5 separate regions of the Homo sapiens genome follow, and all the other regions are linked to region 2. Evidence: fine-mapped expression QTL. A gene starts in region 2. Each other region holds a variant in brackets. All regions are shown on one strand. Distances are between the middles of the regions.

Region 1 (4,116 bases), 43 kb after region 2:
CGAGTCTTAGCCCATTCAGGGCTCTGCCGCCCACTTCCAGGTCTGCACAAATAGGAACATGGCAGCAAGAGGCACATGCAAATTCCCCGGGGTGCCCTTGCCACCCCTAGCCAGCGCTCAGGGCCACAGAGAAGGTCCTGGCTGCTCTGCCGAGTGCCCCGGCTCCCAGCCTGCAGTCTGTGTACTCCAGAGTCCTTGCTGCCCTGGAGGCTGAGTCCAGAGCCCGGGCTCTGGGCAGCTGCTGCGGAGGGCCCACTTCCCTGGAGCAGGGCAGGAGCAGCGCCGGGCCCAGCCAATGCGAGACCAAAGCCCTCAGGATTTGCTACGTTGAGCATTGAGCTCAGAGCTGACAGATGGAGTCAGATGGGCAAACTAATTATATTTTTCATTTTTTTTCTTGGACATTTGTGAGTCTGCAGGAGCTTAATTTATGTATTAATTACACCTCAGAGCTAAATGAGGGGGCTGGAGTGCCTCCAACAGCCTTTGCATTTTATTAGGAAATGTTGCACACATACTTGCCTTCCTAAGGAAATAGCTACTAAAGCTTCCCTCTGAGGAGCTCTGTGGGCCTTGAGGAAACAGAACTCTTCAGCCGCTCAGGTGGGGGCCCAGGTGGAACACTTCAGGCCAGCCTTCGCTTCAGCCTGTGGGCTGACGTTAGAACCTTCAGATTCATCTTCCTCCCCTCACCTGCGGCAGCAACTCCACTGAAGGGAAGCAGTCCCCTCACTGCACCCGCAAAGCCCCAGCCCCCTCAACTGCTGCGTGGGTTTCCCCTGATCAGCTCTGGCGTGGTTGTGTTGCACTGAGCCGCTGTCTCCAGGCCGAGGCCCAGCAGTGAGGCCGGGGACCTGTTTATAGGGCCTGGGGCTTCCAGAAGGGAGTGACTCCCAGTTGGGTCCCCCATCTGTGAGCCAGACACCTGAGGACAGGCCTCTCTCAGGTAGGTGGAAGGAGAGAGGGTCTGGCTTTCTCTCTTGAGCCTGGACTTGGCGGGGTCTGGTAGTCTTGGTGTGGAACTTGGCCAGTGCCCAGGAGGCTGGGCTGGGTCAGGTGGGGCCTTTGTAAAGGCCAAGAAGTTGGCAGGAGGAAGACCATTCTTGTGTGAGCCAGGCCCTAGAGCCTAGGGCTCCTTAATCTCCCCTTTCTTGTCCTCCAGTTCTTTATGAAATCTTGTCTACAGCTGCTGTGCTGCTGGCCTGTGTTGTGGGGGTGGGAATATGGAGAAAGTATCTGCTGTCTACTCTTTGGCCAGTTTTCCTGAGGGAAGCAGCACCCAAGGCCTCAGGCTGGGCGTTGCTGCTATCACGGTGATTGCCAGAGGAAAGGATGGAGGGAAGGCCTTGGGGCGGAGCAGCACCCTCCCCGCTCTGAGCAGGCCTGAGAGTCCATGTCTAAAGGAAGCACTTCTTTAAAAGGGCTCAGGAAAGGCCCCAAGGCTCTCTAGTGCCTACGGGCTGGCAGACAGCTGCCTGGCAACAGCAGGTATCTAACTGGTGTGCTGGCCATGGGCTGATGGTGGACCTGCCTTCTGCACCTGTTTGGGGGGTCACTATAGGGCAGGCCTGCTTTACACAGCAGGTGAAGACTGGTCAACATTGTCACGCTGAGAAGTGACTCTCAGTGGTGAGTTCAGGGGAATGTTGATATTTGTGAGTGCTTTAGGAAGAGGAAGGAACATGGGCACATCCACTGAATGTGATCTTTCTGGGGGCAGGTATTTTTGCCTGCTTTGTTCACTTTATTCTTTCTTTCTGTTTTTTTTTTCTTTTTTCTTTTTTCTTTTTGACTTGGAGTTTTGCTCTTATTGCCCAGGCTGGAGTATACTGACGAGACCTCGGTTCACTGCAACCTCTGCCTCCCGGATTCAAGCGATTCTCCTGCCTTAGCCTCCCGAGTAGCTGGGATTACAGGCACCTGCCACCATGCCCAGCACATTTTTGTATTTTTAGCAGAGACGGGGTTTCACCATGTTGGCCAGGCTGGTCTCGAACTCCTGACCTCAGGTGATCTGCCCACCTCAGCCTCTTAAAGTGCTGGGATTACAGGCGTGAGCCAC[C/T]GTACCCGGCCTGTTCACTTTATTCCAAGAACCTAGAAAAACACCAGGCACACAGCAGGTGGCCGTAATGTGCCAGCAGGAGGTAGTCTGAGGAAAGTTGACTATAGCTGCTCCCAAATCATTTTTGCGGCAAAGCTGACAGACAGGTGGCCGATGAGTCTCAGGGGTGTCTTAGCATATTTTGTGATGCTGTAACAGAGTACTGCAGGCTGAGTCATTTATGAAAAAATAACAGTTCATTTGTCTCGTGGTTCTGGAGGTTGGGAACTCCACCACTGGAGGGCCATGTCTGGTGGGGCCTTACATGGGGGAAAGGGAGAGAAGGAATGGGGCCACATTCAATTTTATAACCAACCCACTCTCATGATAATGAGCCCGCTCCTGCGATGAGGACAAATCCATTCGTGAGGGCAGAGCCCTCGTGACCCACGTACCTCTTAAAGGTCCCCCTTCTCAACACTGTTGCATTGGAGGCCTTTGGGGGATGCCTTCAAACCATAGCAGAGACACTTTTCTGCCTGCCCAAAGTCACATAGCTCATTAGAGGCCAGGTTGGGCCTGGAGTCTCTGGCAGGAATAATAGCTGAACTTTCATTCATTCCCTAACCCACCTGTGTTGTGAGGGCCCTGAGGCCAGCATGTTCATGGCTGCAGCCTCCAACCAACTGAGCTAATTGACAAGAAATCTGCTCTGCCTGATGCTATGGGGGATACTCAGATTTTCTGTGCCCCTAAGATGACCCAAAGCGTGGACATGCTTATTAGTGGGATTCTATCCCCTCAGTGAAGTTTTTGGTTCTTGCTTTTAATAATGGAGCAAGAGAAGCCAGTGGGAAGTCTGTTGACAAGGGAATGACTGCCACGTAGGCACTGGCAGGCTTTGGGTGAGGAGCTCAGCTTCCTGGTGTGGCCTGTGGCAAGCTCACCCTGGGAGGGGCTTGGAGTCTTGTGGATTTCATTCCTGACATTCCATCTGCTGTGCCTGCTACCAGCTGCCCTGCCAACCTGTCTGTGCCAGAAGAGTGTGGAAATAAGCTAGAACCCTTACACAGGGAGGTCCTGTTGTAGTCACTTAGTTATCAGCCCTCCCTCTATCTACTCGACTATAGGCCAAAAGCCCAGCCAGATGCTACCATGGGACCAGGCAGGGCCTAATGTTGCTGGATTCATCCTGGAATCAGTATCTGATCAGTCTTCACCTGGGGCAGGAGAAGGAGCCAGCTGTTGCCCTCTCTGCAAGAGGCAAGAAGCAGCGGGTCCTGACACCCTTCCCCGGAGGGCCCTTGGCTTGCAGGCACCTGGCATCTCCCAACATCTCTCTGGAGCCTCAGGCCAGCCTTCCCAAGATGGGATGCAAGGAGTCTGAGTGATCTTCCCGGAGAGGTGGCCAGCATGTTTGACAGAGCACTCCGGATCGAGGCTGTCCACATGCATTTGTCTCGTCCTTTTGCATTCAGCCAGGCCTGAGACAAGACTAACCCTTCCTGACAGAATCAGTTCAGCCTTGTCCTCTGAGCAGGGCCCAGGGTGGGCAGGGGATAGGCTGGGGCCAGCTGGGCTCTCTGGCCATTGCTGGCTGGTGGAGGACACACGGGGAGCCCTGATAGGCCCAGCAGACAGGGTCCAGCCCAGTGGACAGAGCAGGAGAGGGAGTTAGGGGGTCGGGGCAGAGAGTGGATGAAGCCTCTGCAGCATCTCCCAACCCCAGAGCCAAAGTAGGGAGGGGATCAGGCAGAGGGCCTGGTTTATTTTCTTCCATCTCCATCTCCATCCCTATCCCTATTCTGAGGCCCAATTTTCTCAGTTTTCCCAAAACTGAGGCCCACAGTTTTGGGAATCAGACTAGCCTGAGTTTGAATCCTGGGCACATGGAGCAGAGGGAAGGGGTCACGTGGCCTGCAGAGAGCCACGTAAGTATGGTAGTCTCCATTGTAAGTCTGCCCTGCCCACCCCAAATAGGCCTGCCCTTGGGCAGAATGCTCTCCCCTCTGCATTTGAATGATGCCCTGAAGTGTCCTGCTGCCAGTGCCTGGAAGGCCACCATCTATAGCCCA
Region 2 (4,116 bases):
TCTCTAGGCTGGAGAGGGAACATGTGTGATCCCAGCTTGACCTGGCCTGGTCCTGGGGACCTCAGCAAACCTGGGGCAGGCTGTTCAACCCCCAGGTGGACAAGTGGCCCAGCCTGAGCTCCCTGCTGGCTCTGAGGCCAGCATTAGACTGTGTCACTTCCATACCTGCTGCCGGATTGCCTGGCTGAGGCCACCTGCTCCATTTAAGCCCCCTTCAGGACACTAGTGACACCATCTACCCCACCCCGCCCACTTACCCATTAGACATTCACTAAGCACCTGCTCCTTGCCAGCCCCTCTGCAGGCCACCAGGGACAGAGATGAGTAAGACATAGTCTGGGTCCTCCAGGTGCCCCTAGCTGATTCAGTCAGCTTCGGATGGGACTTGGGGATCTATATTTTTAACAAGCCTTGCAGGTGACTGAGAGGACACACCCAGGTGAGACCCTTTGGTTTTGTGGACCTTCTGGCTCTCAGCACTGTATTCTTGGGGCTGCCAGAATCCCCGTGAGGACACAGCCTGTTTCGCCCCAGTGGTAGGTTCCTCTGGGCTCCAAGTCAGATAACTCTGGGTTCAAATTCTACTTCTGCAACTTCCTAGCTGTGTATCCTTGCAAAATACGTGGACTCTCTGAGGCTGTTTCCCCATTTTTAACAAGAGATAATGGTGCCTTCCTGTTGTGAGGATTAACTGGGATATTGTGCTCAAAGCCCTTAGCAAGATGCCTGGCACACATAAATGGGAATATCTGCTGTTAATTATATTATGGCTGCACTCTGATGGACAGAAATACCTCCCTGGGGGCATTTCCAGAATCCCCACTTCTGGAGCCCATCTCTGAGGTGGCCCTGGATATTTGGGAGGCCTCTCTGTGCCCTCTGCCAGGGCTCCAGCGGGACCTTCCTGCTTCTCCCCACGGATCCGGCTTTCTGGTCCCCAAACCGCATATTATCTGGGCACACCCTCCCCTTCATTTACCCAGAGTGACCAAAGTTCCAACCACACCTCTCCGGGCAGCCTGTCCCCAAATTTCGGGGAAGTGGGCAGGAGGGGGAGCTTTGCCGGGCAGGAGGGGGAACTTTGCCAGGCAAGGGCTCCGCGGGCAGAGGCGGGCACTGGTGAGGCCAGCCTCCTCCTGGGGACCAAGGTCGGGCGCCCCTGCCCAGCCCCTGCACCTGCCCCTGTCCCTGCCCTGTTCGGCTGCGAAGGGACTGGGAGGTCTGGCGAGGAAGAGCCTGGAAGATCCCCGCCCACAGCTACCAGCCCTCCTTTGGGACCGCTGGCCAGAGCCCCAGCCGTGGGGCACACGGGACCTGTGGACTCAGCCGGGGTCATCCGGAGGGGCGCCCACATCTGCACCCGGGGCTCCGGAGCCTGCTCCCCGCCACTGTCGCCGCCGGCCCTGCCTAACCTGCGCGGCGCAAGCGGCTTCCACGCCTAGGGAAGGAAGGCACACGGGGTGGGGGCCCCGGAACCCGGTTTCTCTGCCGCCGGGCGCACGTGGCTCGGTCCCAGGGGACAGAAGTCGCCTCCAGACGTGTGGCGGCACCCGAGGTCCGCGCAGCGACGGCGCAGGGTGCAACCGGGCGGGCGTCTCGGGGACCGGGCGCAGCACGCAGCCCCGCGGAGACCGGGGGAGGGTACACTCACCTCTGCGGCCCGCCGCTCGGAGCGACCGCGGCAGCTGAAGGTCCGCGGCGAAGGCGGTGGCTCGGCCCGAGGCTCCTCCTCCCCCGCGCCCCACCCGCCCGGGAGGGCCGGACCTGCAGGGGAGGTGGCCGCCCTCCAGCCCGCCGCAGCTTATCCGGCTCGGCCACCTCCCCCGGGGCCGCAATCAGGAGCCGCCGGGTCCTCGCTCCCCGCCCAGCCCTGCACAGCCCCGGCAGCGGTGGCAGCGTCCAACCACCCTCCTCCCCTGGCCCCAGGCGGGAGGTCGCCAGCCGGCGCCAACACTTCCTGATTTGCAGTGCCCGGCACACGGCTGAAGTGAGCAGAACTCCGGGACCTCCTCTTAACCCGGCCACGGAGGGCACCGAGGCCAGGGTGACCTCTAGGCCCCCCTCTCTTAACCTGAGGAGCACCTCGAATCCTTGTCCATTTTATAACCGAGGCCAAGTGGCAGCCACGGTTGCAGGTGGGAAGAGACCAGGGCTCCAGATTGGGTCCGGATCCCTTCCCTCTCAACAAGGTTGCGCCCAGGCCTTTGTGGTCCCCCCCCAATCTCTGTCCCTTGTCCACCCTTAGGGCAGACTTTTGACCCTTCCCAGCAGTCCTCAGGTTCCAAGACCGGTGGGATGGCGGGTACCTTTCTCCCGGAGCTGCCTCCCTGTCTAGGCCTTCTGGGCTCTGAAACCCTACCCGTCCCCCCTTCCCCCTGGGGCACTGCCCGCTGCCCTCCGCACTTCCAATGCCGATGGCTTCACAGCACTGCAGCGAAGCAGGGCGTAAGTAAGGGGAGGCTGTCTGTGGGCACCTCTCTAGAGGTGTGCGCCCTGGTCCGAAGCCCCTTCTCACCTGTGGTCACATTTGCCGGCTGCAGTTATTTTCTTTACAGGTGAGGAGACCCGGGCTTTTCCGCTCAGATTCGTGGAGGCTGAGTGGGGGTTCCTGACCCCTGGTACTCTTTCTAGAGTATTCCTGGGAGACATACACTATTAGCCTCTGATAAGGAGCTTCAGGTTATTTTTAGGAAGTCTAAGAATCCTGTTTTCTGGGGAGCCAGCCTCTGTTGGGGAGATAAGCCTCCGGAGGCCAGAGGCAGGAGCTGGGCCTCAAGGAAGGCCCCACAACTGGACCCCAAAGGGCACGGTGGGGAGGAAGAGGCAGAGCTCTGGTCTCCCTGTGGAGGGAGTGCTGCTGTAAAGCGCCTTTCCCTCCACCCCCAACTCCCGCCGAGAACCCCCCCACCCCCGCAGGCAGTTTGCTTTCCCCCTCCACAGCTTTCCTCCTACCCGAATACCCACCTCCCAGCTCTCTGCTCAGCCAGGGCCCAAGGCCAGAGCCTCTCTTCTCTTGCAAGAACTTTCCTGTCCCACCTTGCCCCAGGGCAACACCTCTTATGGCAATTCTTACAGGTCCTTTATCCATTCAACACTCACAGTGCCCCAGGTGCCAGACAGTGCTCCCAGTGCTGGAGACACACGTGCCCAATGGAGGTTCCTGCCCTTAGGGTGCCAGGGCTGGTGAGTGGCCCCTGCAGTGGGTTGTAAACTTTGAGAAGACAAGACCCAGTTCCTAGCCCCCTCTGGTGCCCCTAATATGCTCCCCCTGCAGTAGCTGTTCTTTTGATGCCTGCTCCTGCTGATGGGGATGGCTGAATAGCCTTCCTTTAATGCCCAAGGACAGCACAAGGAAACCGAGCTTGGGAAATGCAAACACTGAGAGGTCTTCCAGCATCTTTGGAAGAATCCCTGGGAACCAGTGTCTTTTTGTGGGGCTCTCCATGCATGAGTAAGAGAGAGGAAGACTTTTTTTTGAGGCGGGGAAGCGGGGCTCTCCATGAGTAAGAGAGACAGGGGGAGACATTTTGAAGGCTGGGCTGCCAGAGGTCTATAGAGGATTATCTTAAAAGGAACATGAACTCCTGCTGGAAAAAGTAGAGGGGTCTGAAATTTCTCACAGACAGGGAGGGAGGTGAATACCCTACTTGGGCCCACACACTTTGGCAGAGAGGCCACCGCCCACGCCGTTGACCTTTGGTGCTTGTTCTGTCCACTGACCGTTGGACTAAGGGGGCCTTGAGTGTGAGCTTGTCTCACCTGGCATGGGGTCAGGTGTTTCCAGAAGCTTGAGAGCCAAATTTCCCAAAGCAGACGAGCCCTTTCCTACTCCAGGGAGGAGTGCAATGTGCTGAGCTTTGTTGAGCACCTTCTATGGGCCAGACTCTGGTGTCCTCTGCCAAGGATAGAACAGTCAGAGCCATCCTTGCAAGATGTTTGCCAGATCGCATTTCTCCTCTGCTCAAAACTCTACCCCCTCCCCCAGCAAAAGTAAAGTCCTTGCAATAGCCGTGGCCCAGTGTGATTGGCCTTCTCTCTGCCCTCATCCTCTGTCTCCCTCTCTCTGCTCACATTCAGTCCCACCTCAGATGAATCTGACAGGATCCTGACCCCTGC
Region 3 (4,116 bases), 35 kb before region 2:
GCACACTACAATTTCACAGACAGGTTCTCACGTTCAACATTCTTGGGCCCAAGTAAAATAACCAAATAAAACCTTCTCTATCCTTCCTCACCCTCTCTGGTTCTTCTTGGCTTTGTGTCCATTTTTGGAATCTTCTTGGCCCAGTCTTTAACAACTTCTGGCTCACCACGAAGAGTGAGGAAGCCACGATTGGCTTTATGCTGTCACCCACAGTGAATTCCTATCATTTTAATGTGGTCACCTCCCAAAGAGAAGACTCCTTGACTGTCAGTTGCACATAAGCAAATCCTTGCCACTTCCAGAAGTGTCTGTCAAGAATTCCAAATCCCCTGCAACTTCTGAGCCACCCCAACTTTTCTAAATTCTAATCTCTTAGTGTGGAAGACTGTGGTTAAAAAAGTCCCCAGCACTGACCATCAAGAATAAGTCTTGGCTGGGTGCGGTGGCTCACGCCTGTAATCCCAGCACTTTGGGAGGCCGAGGCGGGCAGATCACCTGAGGTTGGGAGTTCAAGACCAGCCTGACCGACATGGATAAACCCCGTCCCCGTCTCTACTAAAAATACAAAATTAGCCAGGTGTGGTGGCGCATGCCTGTAATCCCAGCTACTCGCTTGAACCCAGGAGGTGGATGTTGCAGTGAGCCAAAATCACGCCATTGCACTCCAGCCTGGGCAACAAGAGTGAAATTCCGTCTCAAAAAAAAAGAAAAAAAAAAAAAAGAGTAAGTCTTGAAGTCAATCACCCTGATGTTCCCCAGCCAGGTGCCCAGCCCTAACTAACTGTGGGCCCTCCCACCCCTCCTCATTGTGGACTTATTGGTGTTGCCAAGATGGCTGGGTGATGCCCTTTATCCCCAAGAGTTTAACAGTCTGTGGCTTTTAGACTGTGGTTTTCAAACCTTGCTACACATTAGAATCACCCGGGGAGCTTGGGTAAAATACTAGTGCCCAAACCCCACTTCCAGAAATTCAGATTAAGTTGGTTTGGGGCGGGGCATCTGTTGTTTTTTAAGGTTCGGCGGATGAGGCTGATGGGCAGCTAGGACTAAAGCCACTCATTTAGGAGACTGTCGTCACCACACCCTTCTAGCTTCAGGGTGAAAAGTCCACACGGGCCCCTCTGCTCAGGTCACTTGCCTGAGGAAGACCTGGACCTATCTGTTCCTTAGACAAAGCCCCACTGAGAGCCTTTTGGCGCCCACCTCTGTGTCGTGGGCTTTCCCAGGAGGTGCAGCAATGGGAGCCCATCCAGGCCTGGAAAGCCAGCCTTAGTAGCCCCAGTGAGGTCTTTGCATCTCCCTCGGGTGACATGCCCTGTAGCTCCAGTGTTTGGTCTGTGTGGGCCACTGTCCCCAGCCCCTGATCTGGAGAGTGATGAATTTTGCTGGGCACTCTGGGCTCTGCACAGGGACAGTGTGGAGACGCTGCTCCCAGGCCCACCAGTGGCAGTCAGCTCCTCCTGTTCATATAGCCTCATTCTTGTGCCATTCAAAATCCCATGGTGCAGACAGCAGGAAGTTCCAGCCTCAGGCCAGTGGTTCATAGCAAGGGCTGACAGCCAAAGGCCAGCCAATAACAAAGGGCCTTTGACTTTCCTGTCCCAGTGGGAAGCCTGCATGATTCCAGGGAGTTTGTTTCCCAAAAACTCTCCTTGGGAACAATTTAAAAATCCCAGAACCCAAAGAAGCCCAAAAGGAGAGGGATTGTCATGAGGCGATTAATAAGATCCCCAAGCTAGAGCCATTTTTATTATACGTAAGCTTGTTAGCAAAAAAGAAACAGCCAGGTCGTTGTAGCTCCTGCTGGTGCTCAATTACTACGGCACAAAGGGGCTTTGGACAATTGCTCATGAAGCTGGGGTCAGGCTGGTCTTGTCATTATTTCAGGCAGGTGGCTGGAGTGGGCAAGGTCACAGGCAGTTCCTCTAACTCTGGGAAAGAACTTAGGTTCTAAAAGCTGAACCCTCATTTTTCTGCGCAGGTGAGCTGCTCTGACTGGAGTATTTTGCAGTCTAATATCTAACAGCCAGTTAAAACTGGCTGAATTGAAACACTTAGCACAACCCAAACCAAACCAAAACAATAACAAAAAAATACCAAAGGAAGGCTGGGTGCGGTGGCTCACGCCTATAATCCCAGCA[C/T]TTTGGAAGGCCGAGGCAGGCGGATCATGAGGTCAGGAGATTGAGACCATCCTGCCTAACACGGTGAAACCCCATCTCTACTAAAAATACAAAAAAAAAAAAAAAAAAAAATTAGCCAGGTGTGGTGCCGGGCGCCTGTAGTCCCAGCTACTTGGGAGGCTGAGGCAGGAGAATGGCATGAACCCGGGAGGCAGAGGTTGCAGTGAGCCGAGATTGTGCCACTGCACTCCAGCCTGGGTGACGGAGTGAGACTCCGTCTCAAAAAAAAAAAAAAAAAAAAAAAAAAAATACCCAAAGGAACACAAAACAACATGTAAAACTTTGAAAACAGATTTGGGAACAAAAGGATAAATGCAAGCACAAGTCACCTCTTTGTGGAATCAATACACTGTTTCAATGGTTTTTAGCTAAACGAAGTGTCTGAGGTGTTCAAACCAGAGAGACTTCACCTGAATGGGGGGCTGGGTAAAATGAGGCTGAGACCTACTGGGCTGCATTCCCAGGAGGTTAAACGTTGCTAGTCACGGGATGACATAGGAGGTCGGCTCAGGATACAGGTCATAAATACCTTGCTGATAAAACAGCTTGCAGTAAAGAAGCCAGCCAAAAGCACCAAAACCAACATGGCAACGAGAGTGACCTCGTTGCTCATTATACACTAATTATAATGCATTCGCATGTTAAAAAACACTCCCACTAGCGCCATGTCAGTTTACAAATGCCATGGCAATGTCAGGAAGTTACCCTATATGGTCTAAAAAGGTAAGGAACCCTTAGTTCTGGGAATTGCCATCCCTTTCCTGGAAAACTCATGAATAATCCACCCCTCGTTCAGCATATAATCAAGAAGTAACAATAAGTATAAGCAGCTGAGCAGCCATGCCGCTGCTCTGACTATGGAGTAGCCATTCTTTTATTCCTTTGCTTTCTTAATAAACTTGCTTTCACTTTACTCTATGGACAGGTCCTGAATTCTTTCTCGCGTGAGGTCCAATAACCCTCTCTTGGGGTCTGGATCGGGACCCTTTTCCGGTAACAAAAGCATTACAGATCTAGGGGTCAGCCAAGGCCCCTCAAGAACCATGGCTGTCCCCATAGCCTGGTGTCTGCTGTGGACATGTGTGTAGGGGAGGGTGATGGGGCTCAGGTAACTTCTCACTAGCCACGCTAACTTTAAAGGAGAAGGTTGCAGCTTACCTCAAAAGCCAGCATGCCACTGTTGGCTGCACGCATCCTGCATTTAACGTGTCCAGCTCAAATCCTCTTGATGACCATATGGGGTGGACACAGGCACAAGTGAGCAGCAGAAGCTCCGAGGGCCTAGGAAACTTGTCTGATGATGCGGGGCAGGTAAGTGGGGGTCTTGGGACTGAGATTCAGGTCTTCGGGTTCCACTGCCTGTGTTTCCTGCACTGGAAGTTGCCACACACTGCGGCATGCGCACCTATCAGTCACTTAGGGAGCTGCAAAAATAGATTGCCAGAGCCATCCCTCAGCATCTGAGTCCACGGATGGGAGGCAGGCCTGGGTTATCTCTGTTTCTCCAAGAGGGCTCTGGCTTCAGCCTATTTGACAGGGACTCACAGTAAGAACCATGTTTTACTCTGCTGTCCGGTAGACAACGAGGTATGCTACATTTGCAAATAAAACTAGCAATTCCATATAACTGAAAAAGTATCCCGACACCATGCAAAACACTCCACTGTTTTCTTTGTCATTCTATTTTATTTCATTTTTAAAATGCTGCTTGTGATCCATGGAATCAATTGCATGACCCACTAGTGAGTGTCCGCCAGTTTGCAAACACTGACTGGACCACTTTTAGGCCCAGGGTTGGGGTTCCTTGGCCTCTGTCTCACTGTCTCCTACTGAACTCAGAAATCGGTGGTTGGTACCTTAGTCAGAGATAATGGAAATGTGGCCAGATACCCTAAGAATAATAGCAAAATGCTTTTTATTTTTCTTTCACACATAA
Region 4 (4,116 bases), 59 kb before region 2:
GTTGCCAGAGACCTGCTGTGGAGAAGTTTTCTGCCCTCAATAAGCCCTACAACTGTACACAGTTTGGTTTGAGTCCTATTTTCATCATCCGCAAAATTAGCCTACTTATGCCTTTGTGGTGTGTCAGCATTGAATATTGGGGTGTCGGCCAAGTGCTTAGCCAGGAGCCTGTCTGCGGCATGGCTCAGCCAGGCGGGATGTGACATTCCCTCGTGGTCAGTGAGGCATGCTGTCCTGGCTATGACGATTGGGAGGATGTGAAACTGAAGCTGGGTGCTGGCGAATCATGGAGGCAGCTGGGAACCTCAGTGTCTCAGGCTCAGTTCCTCAGCTGGGAATGAGAAAAGGGTGTGGCTTAGGAGAGGGGTAAGCCTGATGTCTAAAACCGCTTTCCTCTCATGGGTGAGCAAGTTGAAAAGCCAGATTCTACCAGGGAGGTGGCACAGGACGCCTTGGCTGTGCTCCCGGATGTGTGGGGCTGTTTCATCACACAGTTGCATGGGACTTGCTTGTGTGCTCAACTTTCCGGGATGTCCTGAGACTGGACTTTCCAGTTTCCAAGATTCAGTCCCATTGTCAAAGCCTAATATCTGATTTTTTGATTTGATTATATGGTGTAGAGAAGTGGAAAAATCCTCAAGTTTGGGTCATTAAACATTGTAAAATAGGGCCAGGTGCAGTGGCTCACACCTGTAATCCAAGCACTTTGGGAGGCTGAGGCGGTTGGATCATTTGAGGTCAGGAGTTCAAGACCAGGCTGGCCAACATGGTGAAACCCCATCTCTACTAAAAATACAAAAATTAGCTGGGCGTGGTGGTGGGCGCCTGTAATCTCAGCTACTCCAGAGGCTGGGGCAGGAGAATCGCTTGAACTCAGGAGGCAGAGGCTGCAGTGAGCCAAGATGGCGCCACTGCACTCCAGCCTGGGCAACAGGGCCAGACTCCCTCTCAAGAAAAAAACAAAAACAAAAACAAAAAAACCAAAAGAACCATTGTAAAATAGAAATGGATATGGGGAAGAGAGAGGGGGAGAAGGCAAAGCAGGAAGGAGGAGGCAGGAAGGGCAGAGCTGGCACCAAGGCAGGCCCTGGGCTGGATGCCCAGGAGTGTGGGCAGAGGGGGTGCAGCACTGAGAGGCGGACTGGAAGCTTCCATTGCCAAGCTCATGACAAAGAATGGGAGGCAGGGAGGAGGCCCACAGATCTTGCTGAGTGCTAAGCGCCTGCACCCCTGCCCCGAGCTACACCTTGGTGCCACTGTTGACAGTCAGCCCAAAGCCTCCAGGGAGATGTTCACCAGTGTCTCTCAGGGACTTGGGCTTCCTTCCCACCAAGGAAGAGGGAGAGAGACTAGGGCTGCCCTCCACTGTGAAGGACCCTGCTAATTATTCATGACATCCCCGCAGAGTGGCTGGACTGCCACAGCTTCCCCTGTGCCCATCCTCAAAGACAGCCTCAGAAGTGGACATCCGTCTTTCAGGAGGGGCTTAGAGGAGCTCTCCCAAGGACGAGCATGTTGTTTCCCCCCGCAGCCTTGAGTTTTGAAGAGTGAAGCGGGGGTGGTTAGTGATTCTAGGTTTAATGCTTCCACCCGATTGCCCATTTCATCACACTCCTCAGTATTA[T/C]GACATTTGGATTATTTTTTAATCTTCTCTTCCCCTTTTTGTTGTTCTGCTGTTGAACCGATTATGCAGAACTGTGTGTTGATGTCTCTGTGGCACCTTCCCTCCAGGGATGCAGCTCTGTTTTCCAAACACCCCGCTTAATCCTCTTAGGAGGGAGGATGCACCGGGGTGCTCACCCTGTCCGTCAGGGCCGGCAGAGACGGACGCTTTACAGGTGTTTGTTAACCTGGACCATGCTGGACGGGAGGCTTGGAGGCACCAAGATGCCAAATCTCTTACCCATCCCTCCAGCCAGGCGTCTCAAGTGGCTAAAGAATAAATGCATGAAAATTAAGAGCCAGCTCTGCCTGCGAAAGAGAACAGGAGCAAGCTGGCTGTTGGCTGTCATCTGGAGTCACCTACTGGGAAGTGCCGAATCACCCCAGACCAAGGACAGGAAGGAGGCTTGGTGAGTGACAGTCCCACCCTGGCAGCGCCATGAACAGCAGTTCAAAGTGAAAACAGACTCCCTGCATCAGAGCCGACCTATTGGTATAAGAGATTTCACTTGCAGCCCAGCGGCGTTTGTGATAAATAGATCCACATAGGATTGCCTGGTTTCATTTTTCATGTATGTGGGCTTCTCGGGACACCTCTCACTTTCCCAACTTTTTATATCTTTTTTTTTTTCTTTGAGACGGAGTCTGGCTCTGTTGCCCAGGCTGGAGTGCAATGGCATGATCTCGGCTCCCTGCAACCTCCACCTCCTGGATTCAAGTGATTCTCCTGCCTCAGCCTCCCGAGTAGCTGGGATTGCAGGCGTCCACCACCACACCTGGCTACCAATTTTTATATCTTAATGGCCTTTCCAGAACTTTCCAGAACATGTACAACATGCTCCTAGTGGGCCTGGGGATGGTTGAGGGTGGGTAGCGCAGTAAGACAGTTACTGTTACTTCAGTTTTCTTTCAGGTCTTCTGGTTGAGTGAGGAAGAGGTTTCAGTTTGGTGATGGCAACGTCCTTAAGACTTCACTTGCTTCCCTCTCTCTGTTCTTTTGAGAGCGGGTCTCCACCAAGCATTTTAGCAGGTAAAAAATCTAGCTAGAATTTAATCATATTATTTTGTTTTTATTTATTTTGAGGTTGTAACTGCTTTAAGGTCTTATAGCCAGTAATAACGGTTTCCTATTCATGTTAGGATGTTTATTTAGCAAACGCTTATATAGCACTTACTCTGTGGAAGATCTGTTTTAAATACCTTAAAAAGAGAAACTGTTTTTTCTCTCTCTGTCATTCTCATTCTCTCTCTCTCTCTCTTTTTATTTTCTTTGTGGTAGGGTCTCACTCTGTCACCCCAGGCTGGAGTGCAGTGGCAGGATGGCAGCTCACTGCAGCCTCGACCACCCTGGCTCAAGCTATCCTCCCACCTCAGCCTAAGAGAAACTCTTGGAACGGAAAACCAAATACCACATATCCTCAGTTATAAGTGGGAGCTAAATGATGAGAACACGTGGACACAAAGAGGGGAACAGCAGACACCGAGGCCTACTTGAGGGTGGAAGTTGGGAGGAGGGAGAGGAGCAGAAAAGATAACTTTTGGGTACTGGGCTTAATACCCGGGTGATGAAATAATCTGTACAACAAACCCCCATGAGATGAGTTTTCCTGTGTAACACCGAACCTAAAATAAAAGCTAAAAATAAAATTAAGTTAAAAGAGAAGCTGTCATTTTTCTCATAACCTAATTACAAACCTATGTGGTAAGAACTATAATCACCCTCATTTTATAGCTGGGGAAACTGAGGCAAGAGGAGGTTAAATCGGGTTAGGAAGTAGTAGAAGTGGTGCTGAAACCCTGGCAGTGTGGCTCCAGATTTTGTGTTCCTTTTTTTTTTTTTACCATTTTTTTTTAGAGATAGCGTCTTGCTGTCAGCCAGGCCGGAGTGCTGTGGTGCAATCATGGCTCACTGCAGCCTTGACCTCCTGGACTCAAGTGATCCTCTCAACTCAGCCTCCTGAGAAGCTGGAACTACAGTTGTGCACTACCAGCTTGAGTAATATTTTAAAAAAATTTTTTGTAGAGATGGGGTCTCACTATGTTGCCCAAGCTGGTCTTGAACCCCTGGACTCCAGTGATCCTCCTGCCTCCCGGATTCCTGTGATTACAGGCCTGAGTCCCCATGTCTGGCCTGGATTTTGTGTTTTTAACCTCTGTGCTATGCTGCCTCTCCATAGGGAACATTAAAAATTAATGTTTTCAGGCCGGGCGCCGTGGCTCACGCATGTAATCCTAGCACTTTGGGAGGCCAAGGCAGGTGGATCACCTGAGGTCTGGAGTTCGAGATCAGTCTGGCCAACATGGTGAAACCCCATCTCTACTAAAAATACAAAAATTAGCCAGGTGTGGTGGTGGGCGCCTGTAATTCCAGCTACTCCAGAGGCTGAGGCAGGAGAATCGCTTGAACCCGGGAGGTGGAGTTTGCAGTGAGCTGAGATCGCACCATTGCACTCC
Region 5 (4,116 bases), 160 kb after region 2:
TTGGGCCTAAAATTGTATATATATCATACTTGGGCTGAACTGAGTAGAGGCATCTAAATCCAGTGGCAGAGCCATGGGAAGCAGTGGAGTGGGGTGAGGAGTGGAGAGGGATTAAAGCCACAGTAAGCAGAGATAGACACAGCTGGCTTTGAAGCTCAGCCCTGCCATCTGCTATGTATGAGGTTTATCAGTCACTCATCGAGTCTGAGCCTCAGGGTCTTTGTCTATAAAATGAAAATAATAGCACCAATGCAATGTTGCTTGTGATGGATAGATGAAATGGCACATGCAAAGTGAATACCCAGTACCTGAAACAGGATTAATAAAAGGTTATTGTAATTATTATTTATAATTATGCTACTGTTTATCAGAGGACTTTAGCACCTTGATTTACAGTCTGCCTGTATCAGCTAGCTATTGCAATAATAATGCTGCATAACAAACAACTCCAAAAGTCAGTGGCTTAAAAAAATAAGCATTTACTTTCACTCTTTTATTTGTAGGTTAGCTGAGTTCTGCTGAGCTCAGGCTCCACAGGTGATTCTAGGAATCTACTGGGTCCAGATCTGCTCCACAGGTCTTGGGCATGCCATTCTCATTGCAGCTGCAGGAGCACAAGAGGGCCAGCTTAAATATACCAGCATATTTCAAACCTCTGCCTGCATCATGTTCACCAGTGTATCTTTGGAGAAGAGAGTCACACAGCCAAATTCAAGAAGTGGAAAAATATACTTCACCTCTAGTGGGAGGAATTGCAAAATCACATGACAAAGAATGTGGACATAGGGAGGGTGAAGAATTAGGGCCAATTGCCCTATTTATCGCATCACTCTTCAACACCTCTGCTTTTCCACGAAGAATCATTTGGGATCATTCAGGGATAGAAAAATGGCTGTTGAGACCCAAGTCTCTTTTCCACTCTAGTTTCTTTCATCTCCATGTTCCTCCCAGCAATTCTTTTTCAGGGCTGTGACTTTGTGTTCCTTTCAAGGAGGGTCAGTCAAGCTTCTTTGATTGTAAGCCAAAGCAAACAACTCTTGCCATTCTATCAAAAAGGGAATCAAATGAAGGCTATCAGGCAGCTCAAAGACGTTCAGGAAGCTGGAGAACCAGGCTAAAAACAGAGCATATGACAGCAGGCCAGCTCTGGGGATCCTCGCAGCAGAACCTGCACAACTCTCTGCCAGGCACTGATGCTGGGGCAAGGGAGCTCCCACAAGGCTTTCCGACACTGTGTCTTTGGGCTCAGGATTCAAAGTCCTAAAAGAGAGTCTCATTGGCTTAACTCCTGTCTCTTGGTCAGGACAGGGTAGGGCACCACAGTTTATAGATTTCCAGCACTATCCAAAGTAGGAAATAGTGGCTTCCCAAAAGAAAGTCAGAATGCTATTAGGAAGAGAGAATGAGATAAGATGTCCAAAAAAAAAACCTGATGTCCTCTTTGTCAGACTTCCAAGCCAATGGTGTAACAGAAAGAGCCTTGGAGAGCTGACATGGGCTGGATTTTATCCACTACTCTGCCACTAACTTGCTTGGAACACCGAAAGCTGAATTCTGTGGATTCTTTCTTCACAAACACTTGTATGGCACTTAACGGTGTTGCAGGCA[A/G]TAATCTAAGAACTTGGCAAATATTAACTCAGCAGTCCCTGATCTCAAGGAGCCATTAGGGAGGACGGCAACTTACCTCATCTCACTGATTGGTTGTAAGGACTAAATAAACATGTGAAACATCTAGCAGAACTCCTGGCATGCAGATAATGTTAAAAAAAAATGCCAGTTGCCATCTCCCACCAATCCCCCACTTCCATCTTATGGAGAGCTCCATAAGACAGGAAACTGCCTGAGGTTTCAGGGACCATCCTGAGTTGATATTGACATTTAGGACAGCTCCCCATTTAATAGAACAGCCTGACCCCTCTGCCCACTGGAGTCCAATAGGAGGTTTGGGACATTGTAAGACATGCTAGCACATCTTCAGAGTGAACTGAGGTATGACCTCAGGGTGTCTGTTACGTCCATCTTCAGCATTTTCTCATGCCAGGGAAATTTGTTGCCTCCTTTCCTACGCTCTGAGCAGTGCCATACACATTCCAATGTGATGAAGGGAATGTTTCCTATTAGTGCTGTCTAGTATGGTAGCCAATAGCCACAGCTGGCTACTGAACCCATGAAAGAGGGCTAATTTTACTGAGGAAATGAATTTAAAAATTGAATTCAATTTTAATCTTTGAAATTTAAATAACCACTTGTGACTAGCAGCCACTGGATAGAGAGTGCAGCTAGAGCTGTTCGTGCTGTAGAATACACCTCAGGGGCTCTGACACCTGGGGTAGGGGCAGCCAGATGGTGCCTTTAGGGAAGGCTCACTGGCAATGTCTCACTTTCCACCCTTAGGAGGCTGCTTCAGAAGGGTCTCTGCTTTGACCATCTCCAGCCCTGGCCCCTGCTCCCCCCAACTCCTAGCAGCCCCCCCCACCCCCACCCCAGGGTGGAGCAGTCAGCTGACGACTTGGTTGGGGATCATCTTGCTTCAATTCTGCGGCTCAGTGTTCTCACAATCGACAGGCCCAAAAGTTAGTGGGGGTGAGATAAATGGGAGACACTTGGAGAAGATTTAATTAATCCGGGGTTTCAGTTCCCCCAGCGCAACTCATACCTTTACAGCCACCTGTCTCTTGGTTGCATTCACAGGTTGCATTTTACAGAAGAAGAACAACAACAAAAGTCCTCTATACACCAATAAGAAGAGCCAGGACCACAAAATGTGAAAGCTGAAGGGAACCTTCAAGAGCATCTGACTCAACATCCTTATTTTATGGGTGGGGAAATGGACTCATCCTAATTTTAGCATGGGTGTCTTAATCTGTTCCTACTGCTATAATAAAATACCTGAGAGTAGGTAATTTACAAATAACAGAAATTTATTTCTTACTGGTGGCTGGAAGTTCAAGATCAAGGTGCCAGCAGGTTTGGTGTGTGGTGAGGGCTGCTCTCTGCTTCCAGGATGGTGTCTTATTACTGCATCCTCTGGAGGGGACGAATGCTTTGTCCTTACATGACAGAAGGAAAAGAAAGATGAAAAGGGGCCTAGCTAGTTTCCTCCAGCCTTTTATAAGATGCTAATCCCATCTCTCATGGTATAATCACTTTCTAAAGTTCCCACCCCTTAGGATGGTTGTATTGGGGATTAAGTTTCAGCATGAATTTTGCAGGGGGCACAAACATTCAAAGGATAGCTGTGGACAAGCTGGGTGTTGGCCTCGCTGGTCTAGTCCTGCAGGATGGGCTGTGGGAAAGGAGACAGCCTTCCTCCCATAACTGAGCTGATGAAGCCAGAGGAAAAGGCCACAGGATCCCAAGAAAGGGAGCTGGGGGCACACCCACAGACACGTATCCAAGATCTGAGCAAGGGGTGGGGAGGAGAGCGGTGGGGTCCAGGCAGACAGAAAGCTGGGGCAGGTGAGGTCAGCCAGAGAGGGGTGGACCCACATTCTGGGCAATTAGCAGAGCACCCCTCAGGGCCCACCCAAAGACTCTCCTGGGTTGCTGGGGCCCATTTCTTTTTTCTTTTTTTGAGATTTTTAACAATAGTGAATATCATATGTGTTTGTTTATTTTTATTATACTTTAAGTTCTAGGGTACATGTGCACGAAGTGCAGGTTTGTTACATAGTTATACATGTACCACGTTGGTTGGCTGCACCCATCAACTCGTCATTTACATTAGGTATTTCTCCTAATGCTATCCCTCCCCCAACCCCCCACCCACCCACCGGCCCCGGTATGTGATGTTCTCTGGGGCCCATTTCTTGAACAGTCTGCATCTATTTTACAAACCCAAGAAGGAGCACAGGATTTTAAAAAGCAGTGAAAGGTAGTCATTCACAGAACCAGGACTCACTCCCATGTCCTCTGATTCCCCTCCCAGTCCTCTTTCCACCACTTCACCCTGGTGAAACAGGACACACATTTTGAAACAGCTTTTCCATCTAGAGTTATTTGACAGTATACACGATTATAATGTTAGGTATAATTACTTGGGCTTGTCTTACTAAGGGCCAGGAATGTGCTGATGGTTTCATAGGCCATTATGTCACTTGATATTCCTAACAGTTC

Which allele goes with the higher level. Positions count from the first base shown, and alleles are read on the strand shown. Sizes are in standard deviations (SD) of each study's normalised expression. Not every link is listed here.
In carriers of allele T in region 1, the expression in cerebellum of the gene that starts at base 1,706 in region 2 tends to be higher than with C alone (large effect, 0.90 SD a copy in GTEx).

The links. PIP is the estimated chance that this variant, and not a neighbour inherited with it, causes the effect. A credible set is the group of variants that fine-mapping cannot tell apart.
Region 1: its variant is the best candidate, but not a certain one, in a credible set for the expression of STEAP3 in cerebellum (GTEx, PIP 0.67).
Region 3: its variant is the best candidate, but not a certain one, in a credible set for the expression of STEAP3 in T cells (TOPMed, PIP 0.77).
Region 4: its variant is the best candidate, but not a certain one, in a credible set for the expression of STEAP3 in whole blood (GTEx, PIP 0.55).
Region 5: its variant is the best candidate, but not a certain one, in a credible set for the expression of STEAP3 in lung (TOPMed, PIP 0.58).

What each region holds. Positions count from the first base shown.
Region 1 is chr2:119,178,307-119,182,422 of GRCh38, reverse strand. All of the region lies in intron 2 of LOC107985941 (a long non-coding RNA gene), which reads left to right. Among named protein-coding and RNA genes, the nearest start is that of C1QL2, 22 kb to the right of the region's middle. The variant C/T (reference allele first, on the strand shown) is at 2,063.
Region 2 is chr2:119,221,424-119,225,539 of GRCh38, reverse strand. STEAP3 (STEAP3 metalloreductase) reads right to left here and starts at 1,706. Exons shown (of 6, transcript NM_182915.3): 1 at 1,652-1,706. RefSeq lists silencers at 1,054-1,123, 1,184-1,963.
Region 3 is chr2:119,256,911-119,261,026 of GRCh38, reverse strand. All of the region lies in intron 5 of STEAP3 (STEAP3 metalloreductase), which reads right to left. Among named protein-coding and RNA genes, the nearest start is that of STEAP3-AS1, 9.9 kb to the right of the region's middle. RefSeq lists an enhancer at 838-1,611. The variant C/T (reference allele first, on the strand shown) is at 2,142.
Region 4 is chr2:119,280,327-119,284,442 of GRCh38, reverse strand. It overlaps a transcript of C2orf76 not described here. Among named protein-coding and RNA genes, the nearest start is that of STEAP3-AS1, 33 kb to the right of the region's middle. The variant T/C (reference allele first, on the strand shown) is at 1,625.
Region 5 is chr2:119,060,329-119,064,444 of GRCh38, reverse strand. No RefSeq gene overlaps it. Among named protein-coding and RNA genes, the nearest start is that of C1QL2, 96 kb to the left of the region's middle. The variant A/G (reference allele first, on the strand shown) is at 1,609.